Regions from separate parts of the Homo sapiens genome. Here region 1 is linked to region 2. The links come from fine-mapping of genetic effects on gene expression. A gene starts in region 2. The other region holds a variant in brackets. All regions are shown on one strand. Distances are from middle to middle. Region 1 has its middle 130 kb from the start of PROS1. Region 2 holds the start of PROS1 (protein S).

The links. PIP is the estimated chance that this variant, and not a neighbour inherited with it, causes the effect.
Region 1: its variant is fine-mapped to the expression of PROS1 in fibroblasts (GTEx, PIP above 0.99).

The regions. Positions count from the first base shown.
Region 1 is chr3:93,840,924-93,849,270 of GRCh38, forward strand. It overlaps the pseudogene RNU6-488P. Among named protein-coding and RNA genes, the nearest start is that of PROS1, 130 kb to the right of the region's middle. The variant G/A (reference allele first, on the strand shown) is at 3,220.
Region 2 is chr3:93,970,603-93,978,949 of GRCh38, forward strand. PROS1 (protein S) reads right to left here and starts at 3,294. Exons shown (of 15, transcript NM_000313.4): 1 at 3,072-3,294. The coding sequence starts at 3,147. It also overlaps the pseudogene RNU6-511P. RefSeq lists a silencer at 943-1,237.

The DNA.
Region 1 (8,347 bases), 130 kb before region 2:
TAAAAGATAACTCCCATGATTTTCCACTTGTCTTGAAATTTTAATATCTAGGTTACATTTTTCATCATTAAAATAGTTATTTAGTTTATTAGTAACCTCTGAAGGATGTCTTGAGCATTAATAATGAGTGGAAAAACACTATAGAAATTATTATTTTTGCAAGAGCTGTATAAGTTAGTGAGGGGTTAATGCTACTTTATGCCTACTGATTATAATATATAATTATATATAGCCTGGCTATATATATTATATAGCTACTTTATGCCTACTGATTATAATATATAATTATATATAGCCTGGCTATATATAATATATATATATATTATAATATATAATTATATATAGCCTGGCCATTCTTTCAATTAAAATAAAGCCAAAGCAATGTCTTTAACATATACCTGCTTTCACTGAATAGTAACAATTCTATCAGTCTGTGGTGAAAGGGAAAATCTCAATATTAAGGACATAAATTGACAATATTTTCAATACGAAAGATGTTCCATGGAATAGGGACGCATTCGTGGGGTTTATTTATTTATTTATTTATTTATTTATTTTTCGAGACGGAGTCCTGCTCTGTCACCCAGGCTGGAGTGCAGTGGCAGGATCTAGGCTCACGGAAACCTCCTCCTCCTGAGTTCAAGCAATTCTCCTGCCGCAGGCTCCCAAGTAGCTCGGATTACAAGCACCCGCCACCATACTCGGCGCTAATTTTTGTATTTTTAGTAGAGACGGGGGTTTCACCATGTTGGCCAGGATGATTTCGAACTCCCGGCCTCGTGATCCGCCCGCTTCGGCCTCCCAAATTGCTGGGATTACAGGCATGAGCCACCGGGACCGGCCACATTCGTGTTTTAAGAGGATACTTTCGGTCATTGCGCAGTCTGAAGAGTCATTTTACTTTGCTTTCATTTATAAGACATTCATGTACTGCCATCGTGTGGTCAATCCAGCACACATCAGCTTATTTGAAATGGTATGAAAAGTCAAGGAAAAAAAAAAAGACTGTGCTATTTGTTTTGGTTCATGCTGATAGCCTTCATCTTGCCAAAAAGAGCTTAGCAAAAGAGTTAGCTGGAATATACCATAGATGTAAACCCAAGCACTTTTATTTACCAGAGGACCCAGGCAGTGTGTGTTTGAAGTCAGAACCAAGTCAATCTAGCTGATAAAACCACAGGGAGCAAATAATATTTATTTCCTGTTTAATATTCTGGATATTTCATATAGAAGATCTATCAAAAGTTCGAAGTTGTGTTATTTATATAACTTTTTCCAAAATCACAAGTTACAGTTAAAATGATATTTTATAACTGTAGTGCCTTTTTAATGCAACTAAAAAAAGCTGTGTGCATAAATGGACAAATATAAGTGCAGATACAGGGGAAGTCAAAGCAATTTAAATTGGAAACGTTAAACACACAGCACAAGATCATACTTTTCTCGTTTAGATAATTTCATCTGTCTTCAAGAGTACAAAATCAAATGAGGTCCAACTCCCTTCTACTTAATTTTTAGTATCATCTCTAATACTGAGGGTGGGTGTAATCATTCAAATCGTAATCATGATGAAATTATTTAATGGATTCATATCTTATAAATTAAAATCTTTCTTCCAGTCAGAACATGAAAATCAAAAGCTCTATTTGATAAAAGAGTAATTCTGGATTTAAATACAAAAGTTCTTATATTGTAAAGCCCTTAAATTGTTTTCCAGAAATAAAACCTTTTCAACATTTAAATATAGCAAGAACTACAGGGAAGCATAATTCTATTAATGACTTCTTTCACCTTAGAAAGTATCAGATGAGCTAATGAATTTTCTACCTTCAACTGATAGTTTTAGAGAGAGAAATATCATTTCAACTCTCATATCTTTATGTATTGTTTCAAGAAATGCCAAATGCCTTTCAAAATATTATCTCAGCATGTAAGATTTAAATACACCAACAAATTTTATGAGACAAAATCCTAATTTACTTTCCTTCTTTCCCTTTTTTATTGAACACTCACCACAAATTTCTTATTAGATGAAACATAAAAAGTTATCAACAAATATAAAATCAGCCTAAACGTAACTATCAGTCTAAATTTTGGTCTTAAATTATCACTAATTTTATAACTTTCTTCCATTTAATACAGTGACTTCCTGCATGTTCATGAGTTTATAATGGTCATATAAAATAACTTTTCTCTCATGACCTTTAGTAGGAAAGAAAGATATTTGTATATGAGAGAAAAAGAACTAATAAGTAAATATTTTAATGAAGAAAGAAAAAATGTATTGAGTAGAAATGAAGATTATCCAATCTAAAGATTAGATATGCACTTTTTTTGGTTATGAGTTTCTATTATGGAAAACAAAACAAACTCAGTAAATAGACATATTAAAACAGGTAGAAGCCTAGCCAAATTTTGACACTCTTAAAAGACTTAATAATGAAAAGAGATAGGTCCACGATTAAGACCAGTCTACACATTATTTAATTGCCTGCCAATCCGGGAAAAATTGAATTTAGTCACCATTATTACATGTGGTTCAACACGAGTGTCTTGGAAGTTGCTTATGATAGGGCTACAAATGAAAGTGTCCTAAATTTTTAACCCTCATGAAGATATGATGGACAACCAGAAGATCTAGCTACAGGCAACATCAAGGAAGGAGCACTGGTCAGCTTCATAAATACAAGTCTGTTTTCTAGGGAGAAGGAAGAATGGAAGCAATCTTAGTCAATATTCTTTTGACTGCAAGTACAGAAACTCATTTGAGATAGTTTACACAAAAAAAGGGTATGCATTCTGTAGATATAAGTGTATAGTGCTACTCAAAGAATGATTTAGTGTTTGCCTTGGCAGTGCATATACTAAAATTAGAATGATACAGAGATTAGTGTGGCCCCTGTGCAAGGATGACACGTTCTAAAAATTTATTAATATTTAAAAAAAGATCTAAAAATCATGATGGAATTTGGTATAGAATTTGAGATGAAGCATTTAGAAAGTTGTGAGCAATTTGAGAAAGCAGTTTTTTGCCTGCTGATTCTTTAATAAAAAGGCATGGTCGCTGTGTGATTCCCATGGCGACTGTAACACATTACCACAAACTTCGCGGCATAAAAAAAATTTATTCTGCCACAGTTCTGGATGCCACTCCAGCCATCCTCTTTGAAGAAGGGCCTTGAGCTAGTGAAGCATCTCTGCCAGCATAAGCAGAGAACA[G/A]GAAATGCTTGGAATTTGCAACTACCATGCCTCCCAAGATGGTCACAAGCTAATGACTCATTGGTGTGGGAGTATGAAAGCCCAGTTCCCTTGCCTTTGTCAGGACAAACAGTGCCTTGTAACTTACATTCCAAAATTCCCTGCTGAATCAGACTGGCATCACCCCTACTTGAAGTGGTACCCTGGCTTCTTAGCTTCCCTCCCCTCCTTCCCTCATTCCCTTGGCAATTTAACCCGGAACACTTCTTTAATAAATTACTTGCATATGAATCCCTAGCCTAATATCTCCTTATTTTGAAGAAACTGATCTAACACAAAGAGTAACTTTCTTTTTTTCTTTTTTTTTTTTTTTGAGACGGAGTTTCGCTCTGTCACCCAGGCTGGAGTGCAGTGGAGTGATCTCGGCTCACTGCAAGCTCTGCCTGCTGGGTTCACGCCATTCTCCTGCCTCAGCCTCCCGAGTAGCTGGGACCACAGGGCCCGCCACCACGCCCGGCTAATTTTTTTTTATTTTTAGTAGAGACGGGGTTTCACCGTGTTAGCCAGGATGATCTCTATCTCCTGACCTCGTGATCGGCCCGCCTTGGCCTCCCAAAGTGCTGGGATTACAGGCGTGAGCCACCACACCCGGCCAAGAGTATCTTTCAGATGCCTTGTTTAGCGTTTCCTTAGATTGGGGAACCCAACCTAAGACAAAGATTATGTCATACAAACAAAGAGCAATATGAGCAGCCAATCCCCCTTGAAGAACTGAAACCAAATCATCTCTCTGTCTCTCCAGGCCACTGGAGCCTCATGGCTGCTCTGTTTCTTCCTTCACGTCTGTTTTATTTTTGTCTCTGCACACACATCTCTGCTTTATGGCACTTAACCAGAGCTCTCAATCTAACTCTTCTGTTTCAATTCATGATTTCCTTTCATTTAATATAGTAACTTTTCAAAACCTTTTTAAGAATTTGAAAATAAAGTTTTATGTAAAAGAAATGTATTTCAATAAACTTTAATAGAAAAGAAAGATTACTACATAACTCTAAAGATTACAAAACTCTTTATAGTGATAAGCCAGATTATTTCTAGTCCCATTTGTGTGGAATAAAAGTAAATATGGTTGACTCATTTTATTGATAGAAAGTGTAATGATACTGATAAAAATTAGTAGAATTATACAGTATACAAATGACTGCCAAGTCCTACCACTTTCGGAAGTTTCCTTCTCCTTTAAAAGAAAAGGTGCATGGTTTGGCTCAAGGTATGGCACTCGGTATTGTACATAGCCACCCAAGTTCAGGCTACAGGGAGTATCTGCAAAGAGAGCCTTATTATTTGACCTTGGAGAAAAAAGTGAGAAAAACCCTATCTGACACAGAGGCATTTCCTGAGCCAAGAGTGTATTTGTCTTTGAGAATAGAAAGAGTTTAAACTGAATGTGACATTTTAAAAAATAATTAACAATTACACCATTTATTGAGGAGTACAATGTTAACTTGGCCATTGGGAGTTTTACTGGTTAAAATAATTTAAGAGAGTGTTTTTACTATTATGATTAAATATAATATTATTACTATTTAAAAGGTAACTTTTTTACCTAATACCTATTATATATCAAGCCCTGTATTTAAATCTCTACATGCCATAGCTCATTTACATGTCACATTGATACTTTGATGTGGATATTATTCCTATTTTAAATATTCCAAAGCTGAAACTTAAAGAATAATAGCTCACTCACAGCTAATCATCTGGAAGGGAAAACTAGATCTTTGTCACCAGAGCCCAGGTCATTTCCACACTGCTATACCATCTTAAGCTGTCATCTGTGTTAGCTCTTTCTCTCAGTGTGTCAATGAACAACTCTGTTTCTAAGCCAGTGCTTGGTCTACTGCGTCAGCTGCTTCAGCTTTACTTCTTTCTCTCTGAGAAGTTCCTTCCCATCAAGCCCATGGTGCTAATGAAAGGGATTCATGAAGAGTGAAGGACATATCACATGTGCACATTGTCCCATGTCATGCCCTGTCTAGTTTCTCAGAATGTGCAGAAATGTTCTCTGCAGGAAGTTATGAGCCTTCACCTGGATCCATGTGATAAATTTCAAACAAGCTTAAGCGTTCTTGTCTCTACAATGAATTAAATGCAATTAGGCAACACACAGCAGAATATACCAAATGACCTGTCACTCCATTGTAATTATTTTATTTAAAAATAATCCTACCTGGTTATAACTTAAGCCACACATATAAAGTGGAGAAGAGTTCTTGATTGTCCTTGACAAAAAACAGAAATTAAAATGACTCTGTCTCATTGAAGCTTTGAATCAGAGATTACTACTTAAGAATAAACAGTAGAAAAATTACTACCTTATGGAAAATCACAAAAAATACACATTTTAAACTGTTCAGATGAATTAAGACATCATATAGATTAGTGAAAATAATATAAAATTTAATTATGATCCATATCACAAAGTTATTATTTCTACTTTAATTGGTGAATTTGGACCATATACACAAATTCCCAAACACCATGCATCTGTCACTGACTATACGTTCATGATTGTGTTCCCTAATTAAAATCTATTTCAGTTCAGTATGCTGGAATTCGATGTTTTTGTTCTTTTTATTGTTATTATTATTATTATATTTTAAGTTCCAGGGTACATGTGCACAACGTGCAGGTTTGTTACATAGGTATACATGTGCCATGTTGGTTTGCTGTGCTCATTAACTCATCATTTGCATTAGGTATTTCTCCCAATACTATCCCTCCCCCAGCTCCCAACCCCACGACAGTCCCCCGTGTGTGATGTTCCCCACACTGTCCAAGTGTTCTCATTGTTCAGTTCCCACCTATGAGTGAGAACATGTGGTGTTTGCTTTTCTGTCCTTGTGATAGTTTGCTGAGAATGATGGTTTCCAGCTTCATCCATACCCCTACAAAGGACATGAATTCATCATTTTTTATGGCTTCATAGTATTCTATGGTGTATATATGCCACATTTTCTTAATCTAGTCTATCACTGATGGACATTTGGGTTGGTTCCAAGTCTTTGCTATTGTGAATAGGGCCACAATAAACATACGTGTGCATGTGTCTTTATAGCAGCATGATTTATAATCTTTGGGTATATACCCAGTAATGGGATCACTGAGTCAAACGGTATTTCTGGTTCTAGATCCTAGAGGAATCGCCACACTGTCTTCCACAATGGTTGAACTAATTTACACTCCCACCAACAGTGTAAAAGTGTTCCTATTACTCCACATTCTCTCCAGCATCTGTTGTTTCCTGACTTTTTAATGATCGCCATTTTAACTGATGTGAGATGGTATCTCACTGTGGTTTTGATTTGCATTTCTCTGATGGCCAGTGATGATGAGCATTTGATCATGTGTCTGTTGGCTGCATAAATGTCTTTTTTTTGAGAAGTGTCTGTTCATATCCTTTGCCCACTTTTTGATGGGGTTGTTTGTTTTTTTCTTGTAAATTTGTTGAAGTTCTTTGTAGATTCTGGATATTAGCCCTTTGTCAGATGGGTAGATTGCAAAAATTTTCTCCCATTCTGTAGGTTACCTGTTCACTCTGATGGGAGTTTCATTTGCTGTGCAGAAGCTCTTTAGTTTAATTAGATCCCATTTGTCAATTTTGGCTTTTGTTGTCATTGCTTTTGGTGTTTTAGACATGAAGTCCTTGCCCATGCCTATGTCCTGAATGGTATTGCCTAGGTTTTCTTCTACAGTGTTTAGGGTTTTAGGTCTAACATTTAAGTCTTTAATCAATCTTGAACTAATTTTTGTATAAGGTGTAAGGAAGGGATCTGGTTTCAGCTTTCTACATATGGCTAGCCAGTTTTCCCAGCACCATTTATTGAATAGGGACTCCTTTGCCCATTTCTTGTTTTCATCAGGTTTGTCAAAGATCAGATGGTTGTAGCTGTGTGGTGTTATTTCTGAGGCCTCGGTTCTGTTCCATTGATCTATATCTCTGTTTTGGTACCAGGACCATGCTGTTTTGGTTACTGTAGCCTTGTAGTATAGTTTGAAGTCAGGTAGTGTGATGCTTCCAGCTTTGTTCTTTTTGCTTCGGATTGTCTTGGCAATGTGGTTCCTTTTTGGTTTGATATGAACTTTAAAGTAGTTTTTTCTAATTCTGTGAAGAAAGTCATTGGTACCTTGATGGGGATGGCATTGAATCTATAAATTACCTTGGGCAGTATGGCCATTTTCACGACATTGATTCTTCCTATCCATGAACATGGAATGTTCTTCCATTTGTTTGTGTCCTCTTTTATTTCAATGAGCGGAGGTTTGTAGTTCTCCTTGAGGAGGTCCTTCACATACCTTGTAAGTTGGATTCCTAGGTATTTTATTCTCTTTGAAGCAATTGTGAATGGGAGTTCACTCATGATTTGGCTCTCTGTTTGTCTGTTATTGGTGTATAAGAATGCTTGTGATTTTTGCACATTGATTTTGTATCCTGAGACTTTGCTGAAGTTGCTTATCAGCTTAAAGAGATTTTGGGCTGAGACAATGGGGTTTTCTAAATATACAATCATGTCGTCTGCAAACAGGGACAATTTGACTTCCTCTTTTCCTAATTGAATATCCTTTATTTATTTATCTTGCCTGATTGCCCTGGCGAGAACTTCCAACAATATGTTGAATAGAAGAGGTGGCAGAAGGCATCCTTGTCTTGTGCTGGTTTTCAAAGGGAATGCTTCCAGTTTTTGCCCATTCAGTATGATATTGGCTGTGGGTTTGTCATAATTGGCTGCTATTATTTTGAGATACATTCCATCGATACCTGGTTTATTGAGAGTTTTTAGCATGAAGGGCTGCTGAATTTTGCTGAAGGCCTTTTCTGCATCTATTGAGATAAACATGTTGTTTTTGTCATTGGTTCTGTTTATGTGATGGATTACATTTATTGATTTGCATACATTGAACCAGCCTTGAATCCCAGGGATGAAGCCCACTTGATCATGGTGGATAAATTTTTTGATGTGCTGCTGGATTTTGTTTGCCAGTATTTTTATTGAGGATTTTCACATCGATGTTCATCAGGGATGCTGGTCTAAAATTCTCATTTTTTGTTGTGTCTCTGCCAGGCTTTGGTATCAGGATGATGCTGGCC
Region 2 (8,347 bases):
AAAGTGCTGGGATTACAGGCATGAGCGGCTATGACCGGGTGACAGTATATATGTTAAATATAGAGATTCTCATCTCTCTCTCTCATACATATATGTATGTATATATATGTATTCTGGAAAATTAGTTAATATCTCTGAACAATTTCTTTTTTTATTTTTAAAACAAATAAGTTGAATTAGATTATTTCTAATAACTCTTTCTAAAATAAAGCTATGATTTGTAAATGTTTTTCTTTAAATCACAACTATAAGCCAGCCATGGTGGTGCATACCTACAGTCCCAGACACTCAGAAGGCTGATGGGAGGATTCCTTGAGGCCAGGAGTTCAAAGCTGTAGTGCCCTATAATAGTGCCTGTGAATAGCCACTGCACTCCGGTCTGGGCAAGATTTTTTTTAATCACAAAAATATTTTTTTAATCGTCCTTAGCTTTCTATGGCCTAAACAATGAATTATAGGCTGGATAAGGTGGCTCACTCCTGTAATCCCAGCACTTTGGGAGGCTGAGGTGGGCAGATCACTGGAGGTCAGGAGTTCAAGACCAGCCTGGCCAACATAGTGAAACCCTGTCTCTACTAAAAATACAAAAATTAGCCGGGTATGGTGGTGCATGCCAGCTGGTGCAATACCAGCTACTTGGGAGGCTGAGGTGGGGGGATCACTTGAACCCAGGAGGCAGAGGTTGCAGTGAGCTGGGATCACGCCACTGCACTCCTGCACTCCAGCCTGGGCAACAGAGCAAGACTCCATCTCTAAATAAATAAATAAATAAATAAATAAATAAATAAATAAATAAATAATTCTAAATAAAGAACTACACAATGAATTACAAATAAAATATTTACAGCTCTAATTATATCTCAGATTTAAAATCATATGGAGGCTGGGCACAGTGGCTCACACCTGTAATCCCAGCACTTTGGGCAGCCAAAGTAGGCAGGCCGCTTGAACCCTGGAGTTCAAGACCAGCCTAGGCAATATGGCAAAACACCAACTCTACCAAAAAAACAAAACAAAATAAAAACCACACACACACACACACACACACACACACACACACACACACACATAAATTAGCTGGGTGCGGTGCTAGATAGGTGCTGATCTGGGAGGATCCCATGAGCTCGGGAGGGGGAGGTTGCCATGAGCTATGATCATGCCACTGCACTCCAGCCTTAGTGACAGAACTAGACCGTCTCAAAAAAGTAAATAAATAAAAATAAAGTAAAATCAAATCATATGGATTAAAAACATCACATCTATATCCAAATTTCCTCATAAGTAAACCACAGATGACTTTTAATCCAATTAAGCAATCAAAAACTTTTAACTGAAAGCATTATGGGGCCAACTATTCTTTATGTGATATACTTGAAGAATTAATTTATCTGCTCTATCAGTGTTATATATAACAAGTGTAATTCCCCATATGTTTATATATAATACACATACACAAACCCATATAATTTTTACCTCTGCCTAGATTCAGTCAAAATGTAACAATCTCTACAAAGAGAAAAAGCCTAGCAAATTTCTATGATGACAAGGAGTTAAGTGTGGCAAGCTACTTTGCCTTTCTCCTCTCCAAAACACTAGCTATGAAGCAAATATTTAATTGTCCTAATGAACTATTTAGGTAATAAGCGCATGTAGTTACAAATTGGCTGAATGATAGGGGTTTGAATGCTGAAGTTTTGCAATTGTAGCTGTTTAATGTAAGATCAAAAAATAATGTTTTAGTCCCAAGTTAGATTTTTAAAGTACTGCATTCATCCTGATGACTAACTAATAGAAACTAGTGGAATGTTAGCAAATTGATATATAATTTTCTAGAAATTTCCATCTTCAAAAAGTTTACTTTGGAGCTCTAGACTCCTAAAAGTTATTTGTAATTCAGAGTTCTCACTCCTGTTCCAATCCCTGAAAATAAAACATAGAACAAGAAGTCATTTTTGGCCAGGTGCGGTGGCTCACGCCTGTAATCCCAGCACTTTGGGAGGCCAAGGCGGATGGATCACCGGAGGTCAGGAGCTCGAGACCAGCCTGGCCAACATGGTGAAACCCCGTCTCTAGTAAAAATACAAAAAAAAAAAAAAAATAGCCGGGTGTCGAAGCAGGCACCTGTAATCCCAGCTGCTCGGGAGGCTGAGGCATGAGTATCACTTGAAGCCGGGGGGCGGAGGTTGCATTGAGCGGAGATCCAGCCACTGCAGTCCAGCCTGGGCAGCAGAGCGAGACTCACCCTCAAACAAACAAACAAAAAGGCGTTTTTATTCAATAAACACACTTACAACTTTAGAAAACAAATTAACTGACCACTAAAATGTACTAATTGCCTTGGTATTCCTTATATATTTTTCAGAGAAAACTCAATATCCTGTCTTGAATCCGGGCATAAGGACATAAAGAACCTGAAACACAAAGATAAAGAATTCATGCCACCACCTCAGATCAGTGGCATGCAGTGTTAAAAAATCCTCAGTACAAACGATCTGAGAAATAGAATACAGTATTTAACAGTCCTTTTGATTTCAGGGTTAGAAAGTGACATATATCTACTGCTATACAAACCCTCAGTCATCCTAAAACATTTCGTTAATGTGAGACAAGCAAACCAAGCTCAAAGTCCAGAAATTGCAAAAGGGAGGCAGGTTTCAGGAGACGGGTGCAGGTTGGGGGCAGGCGCTTGGACAAAGGGAAGACACAGTGTGTTACCTTTTCTTCCCTACTCATAAGCTAGAATCTGCTCATCCTAGTTCTCTGACTGGGAACTTCAGCTTTGAAGGGAAATGGGCAGGTGTTCTCATCCCTCCATTGATACTTAGTGTCATCTAGGTTCTTAGATCTGTCCTGTAGGCAATACATTCTCGCAACTGTGCAAATAGTGATCCTGCCCCACCATTGCACTGCCTGCTCTATCCACGGCTGTTTCCATCCGCTGGGTGTCTGTCGGTACTTACTGGAAACTTTCTAGGAGGCTGCAGCTCTAGAGAAGAAAATCCTACCAACCAGGGCACGCAGTTCAGTCGACAATGCTGGGGAAGGGAGAAGAGACGCTATTGATTACTCACAGTTTGCCTCTGAGACGGGAAGCACTAGGAGGAGACACGCCAGCAGCGCCCCGCAGCGCCCACCCAGGACCCTCATTTCGAAGCGCGCGGAGGCGCCGGCAGGGACGGTGGCGCGTCGCGGCGGGGACCGGAGCGCTAGGCGCCGCGGAGCTGCGAGCCTGTGCGCCTCGGTCTGAGCCGTGCTGCGCGGCGGCGCCAGCGACCCAGCGAGCCTCGGCGGAACAGCCGGGGGCGGAGGAGACCGCCCGCTCCCAGCGCCCAGCCCGAGAGGGGAAGTGATAACAAGGACATTTCCAGGAAGCTTTTCGGAGCTGGGGGATGGGCTCTAGTGTTGGAGGCCTAGTAAACACTGCTGAGACATCCTTCTTCACCAGCTCCCTAGTTGCTGCTTTTCCTCCACAGTGTGACGTTTCCAAAGGGGAAGGGGTGGGGAACGCAGTTCTCTGACTGGTCAAGACAACTTCCAGGGTTCAAGAGGACAGGATCCCTAGGTTCAGAAGCAGAAACAGTGAGACACTGAGTTGTCCCTGAAGATATTAACCAAAACCTGGAAGTCAATGAGGACTTTAGGAAGAACTATGGTGATAGTAAAAGCAAATGGGGTCATTTTGATCATCCACATGTTTTTTCGGTCTTGTATGCCATACAGGCATAAAAATAATGTAAAGAACATGAAGAAAAGAAGGGAATATTAGAATAATCTACCTTAAAAAAAATCTTGCTCCGATAAAGACTTCAGTTGAAAGTGAATATCTATCTATACATCTACCTATTTATTAATTTAAAAAAATTTTTTTTTTTTTTGAGACAGAGTCTCACTCTGTCGCCCAGGCTGGAGAACAGTGGCGCAATTTCGGCTCACTGCAACCTCCACCTCCCGGGTTCAAGTGATTCTCCTGTCTCAGCCTCCTGAGTAGGTGGGATTACAGGCGCCTGACACCATGCCTGGCTAGTTTTTTTGTATTTTTAGTAGAGACAGGGTTTCACCATGTTGGCCAGGCTGGTTCTGAACTCCTGATCGTGAGTGATCTGCCTGCCTCGGTCTCCCAAAGTGCTGGGATTACAGGTGTGAGCCACCACACCTAGCCTTATTTATTTATTTATTTATTTATCCGAGACAGGGTCTCACTAGGTTGCCCAGACTGGAGTGCAGTGGTGCAATCATAGCTCACTGCAGCCTCGAACTTCTGAGCTCAAGCAATCCTCCTGCCTCAGTCTCCTGAGTACCTAGGACTACAGTCACACACCACTATGCCAGGCTAATTTTTTAATTTGTTTTTTTTTTTTTTTTTTTTTTTTGGTAGAGATGGTATCGCTGTGTTGCCCAGACTGGTCTGGAACTCCTGACCTCAAGTGATCCTCTTGCCTTGGCCTCCCAAAGCTTTGGGATTACAGGTGTGAGCCACTTCTCCTGGCCTGAATATCTTTTTAATACCACAAATTTGCATCACATTGCCAGTAATAATTGTCAACACTGAAAATTTATGTGTCCTACACTGTAACGTCAAACTTTGTAAAACCATCTGGAATCTATTAATATACAATTTGACAATACATCTTTCAATAAAATTCTGGGTTTTTAATTAATCTCAGAAGTTAACTTTGTGAAAGTGATATCTGGCTTTAGCTCAATATGAATTGACACTTGGTAATCTCATTTAGCCAAAGTTTGGTTTTGATACAGACCTTAATATACAATTAAAACCTGTCCAAAATTTAACTCTTAATCTAGTCTCATTCATAATCTTAATCCCATCATTTTTCCAGTGTTACACTTCTCCATATCATCTTCTACCAACATAGTGTCTACTTATCCACTTCTTCATCTGTCTTCACCAGTAAAATGTAAGATTCATGAGAGCAGGAATTTTTAAAGGTTTTGTTCACAACTATATTACTAGTGCTTAAAACAGTGACTGGTACATAAACGTTTCATTCTATTTAAGTCAACAGTGTGTGCCTGGGAATATTTATGCCAAAATATCAACAATTATCCTGAAATGACAGTGTTAACTAGAATCATAGCAGCATGACTCTTTTCATCATTCAGAATAAACCAGATTACACACTAAAAAGCCAGAAAATTACAGTGTTTTAGATAAGAAGTGTTTATTTCTTGCTCATTGGAAGTCTACTACAAGTCTGCATGACTTTCCAAGTAACTATCTTCCATGTGTGAACTCAGCAATTCATGCTGCTTTGATTTTACAATCCCTCAAAGTCAACATAGTCTTCTACAATTACCATTGCAAGAGAAGAGAGAACATTGAGAATTGTGCCCCAGCTCTTAAATACTTTTACCAAGAAGTGACATACCACTTACATTTCATTAGACAAAGCAAGGCACGAGGTATGCCTGACTTGAAGAGGGTGGGAATAACTGTTATTTCATGTGCCTGTAAGGAAAGAGAACTAGACATGGTGAGCAGCACTTATGGCTACCAAACCACTTAAGATATTCAAAAACTAAGAGTCAGCTTTGCTAAGGGACTGCATGTTGGCACCAGGAATGCTCGGTAATGTTATCACTAGCAGAAATGGGGAAGGCATGAAGTAGAGCAGATGCTTTAATAGTATTGTTTCATTATGACATGGCTGAGAAAAATAAAATCAACTACTGGCCCAGGCCACTGTGTGTATGGAGTTTGCATGTTCTCCCCACGTCTGCATGGGTTTTCTCCAGGTACTCCATTTTCCTCCCACATCTGAAAGATGTGGATGTTAGGTGAATTGGTGTGTTTAAACTGTCCCAGTCTAAGTGAGTGTGGGCATGTATGAGAGCACCCTGTGATGGAATGGTGTCCTGTCAAGGGCTAGTTCTCACCTTTTACCCTGAGATGCCACCTATGATCCTGAACTGGAATAAGTGGACAAATAATTATCTTACTTGTTGTTATTCATCTTTCTTAATGTATAGCTCACATTTATTTCAATGTTTACTATTACTAGTGGTTCCATCTTTATTTTGAAGTTTGGTGATGTTTTTGTGACCAGAAATGTGCCACAGGAACTTAATTGATTTATATCAATTTGTCTGTGGTAAAATTGGTTTTATTGTATGTTATTTTGTTTAAAATTATAGTTTCTAAGAACCTCTGGATGAAGATAAATGAGGATTTACTGCAAAACTGGTGTTGAGTATATATTTGTGAAAAAACAGTCTTGAATATAGTTCTAAAAATGCTCAAGAAACATACACATCATGAGATCCTTCAGTCACAGAAATAATAATCAAATTCCATCAAGACAACATGTTTTAAAAAAGAAAAGCAGAGGGGTAAGGTCATATCTTAGAAGTTACATATAGAAATCCAGAGGAGGAATGGCCTGGGAGATCAGAAGAGAACCAGGGGTTGTGCTCACTTCATCAGCACATATACAACAATTGGAATGATACAGAGAAGATTAGCATGGCCCCTGAACAAGGATGACATGCAAATTCATGAAGCGGTCCATAATAAGTTAAAAAAACAAAGAAGAAGAGAACCAGGGTAGGGTAGTGCAGTGCATAACTGTGAAAGACCAAGGCAGGAAACAGTTTTAGAAAAGTTAACTATATTATATATATATTAAATAATAGAAAAGAAAACCGATTTGGTAATTAGGAAGATATAAGTTATATCAAAAAATATGCTTTCAGTAGTTAGATGGGACAGAAGCCCAATCATAGTAAATGGATCAAAGAGTGAATACAAACAATATAACTTTAGGGTTTGCAAGACACTAGTTTAAGAAAGTGAGTCATGAAAGTAGAGTCAGCAGAAACAGTCCTAAATTGGCTTGGAGTTAATGGAGCATTGCAGTCTTATCCTGCCCTGCTCTCCTGTCTCCCACCATGGATATTTGGAGGTAGGAGGACACATACCATAAGTGTTTATGGGACAGGTGACACCAACTTTAAAATTTGCTATCTATTATTTATCAGAAATTACACTTGAGCTTCATTTCTCTCATTTCATCACCTTAGCAACCTGGAAAAGTAGGTATTTTAATTTCCATGTTATAGATAGGGTTGTTGGAGCTTAGAAGAAAATATCCCAGAATAAAGGCCTCAGAAGCAAAGTTTCTGTCTCTAACCTTCTGTTCCTCGTCTCTTGCCCCTCATTCTCCCACTATGCAAGCCATAGAAACTATAATTCCTCTTTCTCCAGGTGCAGTTATAGAAACCACAACCCCCTTTCCCCAAAGCCAGCCACAAACCCCAAAATATTACTCTAACCTTCTTCCTTTCCATGAAAGACCTGCCCATAAATAAATTCTTTGACTTGCATTGTTTGATAGTACGTCTTAAGACTCCCATTCTAGAAAGGGTCCTACCCCATACCCTGGAAGAAGGAATGCTGAACAATCAGGTCAAGAGGAATCTGAACAGACAGGCCTTGCTGAGTTTCTCCACACAGTCTGCTCTCATTAGGTCATATCCTTTTTGACCAATGAGAGTTCTTCAGGGTTTTTCATTCTTCATCGAACCCAAGTATAAAAATGGGTAGTCTTCCCTGCATCTTTGCATCTCCATTTGCAAGGTTCCCATGTCACATAAAACTTGGATTAAATAAATTTGTTATGCTTTTCTCTTGCTATTCTTTTTGTTATATGAGTGTTGGCTGTGACTGTTATGATGAGAAGAAAAGGTATCACCCCCTTTGTTCCCCATAAGGCACAGTATTTTGGAGATAGCAAGCTGTATGAGATGTATATAAATTTGAATTAAAATTACATGAGGCTGGGTGCCATGGCTCATGTCTATAATCCCAGCACTTTTGGGAGGCCGAGGCAGGCGGATCATTTGAGGCCAGGAGTTTGAGACCAGCCTGGGCAACATGATGAAACCCTGTCTCTACAAAAAATACAAAAATCAGCTGGGCGTGATGGTGCACGTCTCTAGTCCCAGCTACTTGGGAGACTGAGGAAGGAGGATCACTTGACCCCAGGAAGCGGAGGTTGCAGTGAATCGAGATCATGCCACTGTACTCCAACCTGGGTGATAGAGGGAGACTCTGTCTCAAACAAAACAAAACAAAACCAAAAAAAGTTACATGATTTAGTAAAGGACAGAGACTAATTTAAAACCTATATGTATCTTAGTCTCAAATCATTATATTCCCCGCGAATACACTGGGATTCTCAGTGCCTTCTATCCTTTCATCAGGATTTGAAAATATTTATTTAAGTAGAAAATGAATGGACACACAGATCCCTACATATTGTGCATAATTTTTTCCCTACAGGAATGTCCTTGTCATTTCTTTTTCTCCAAAGTATATAAAAGAAATGCA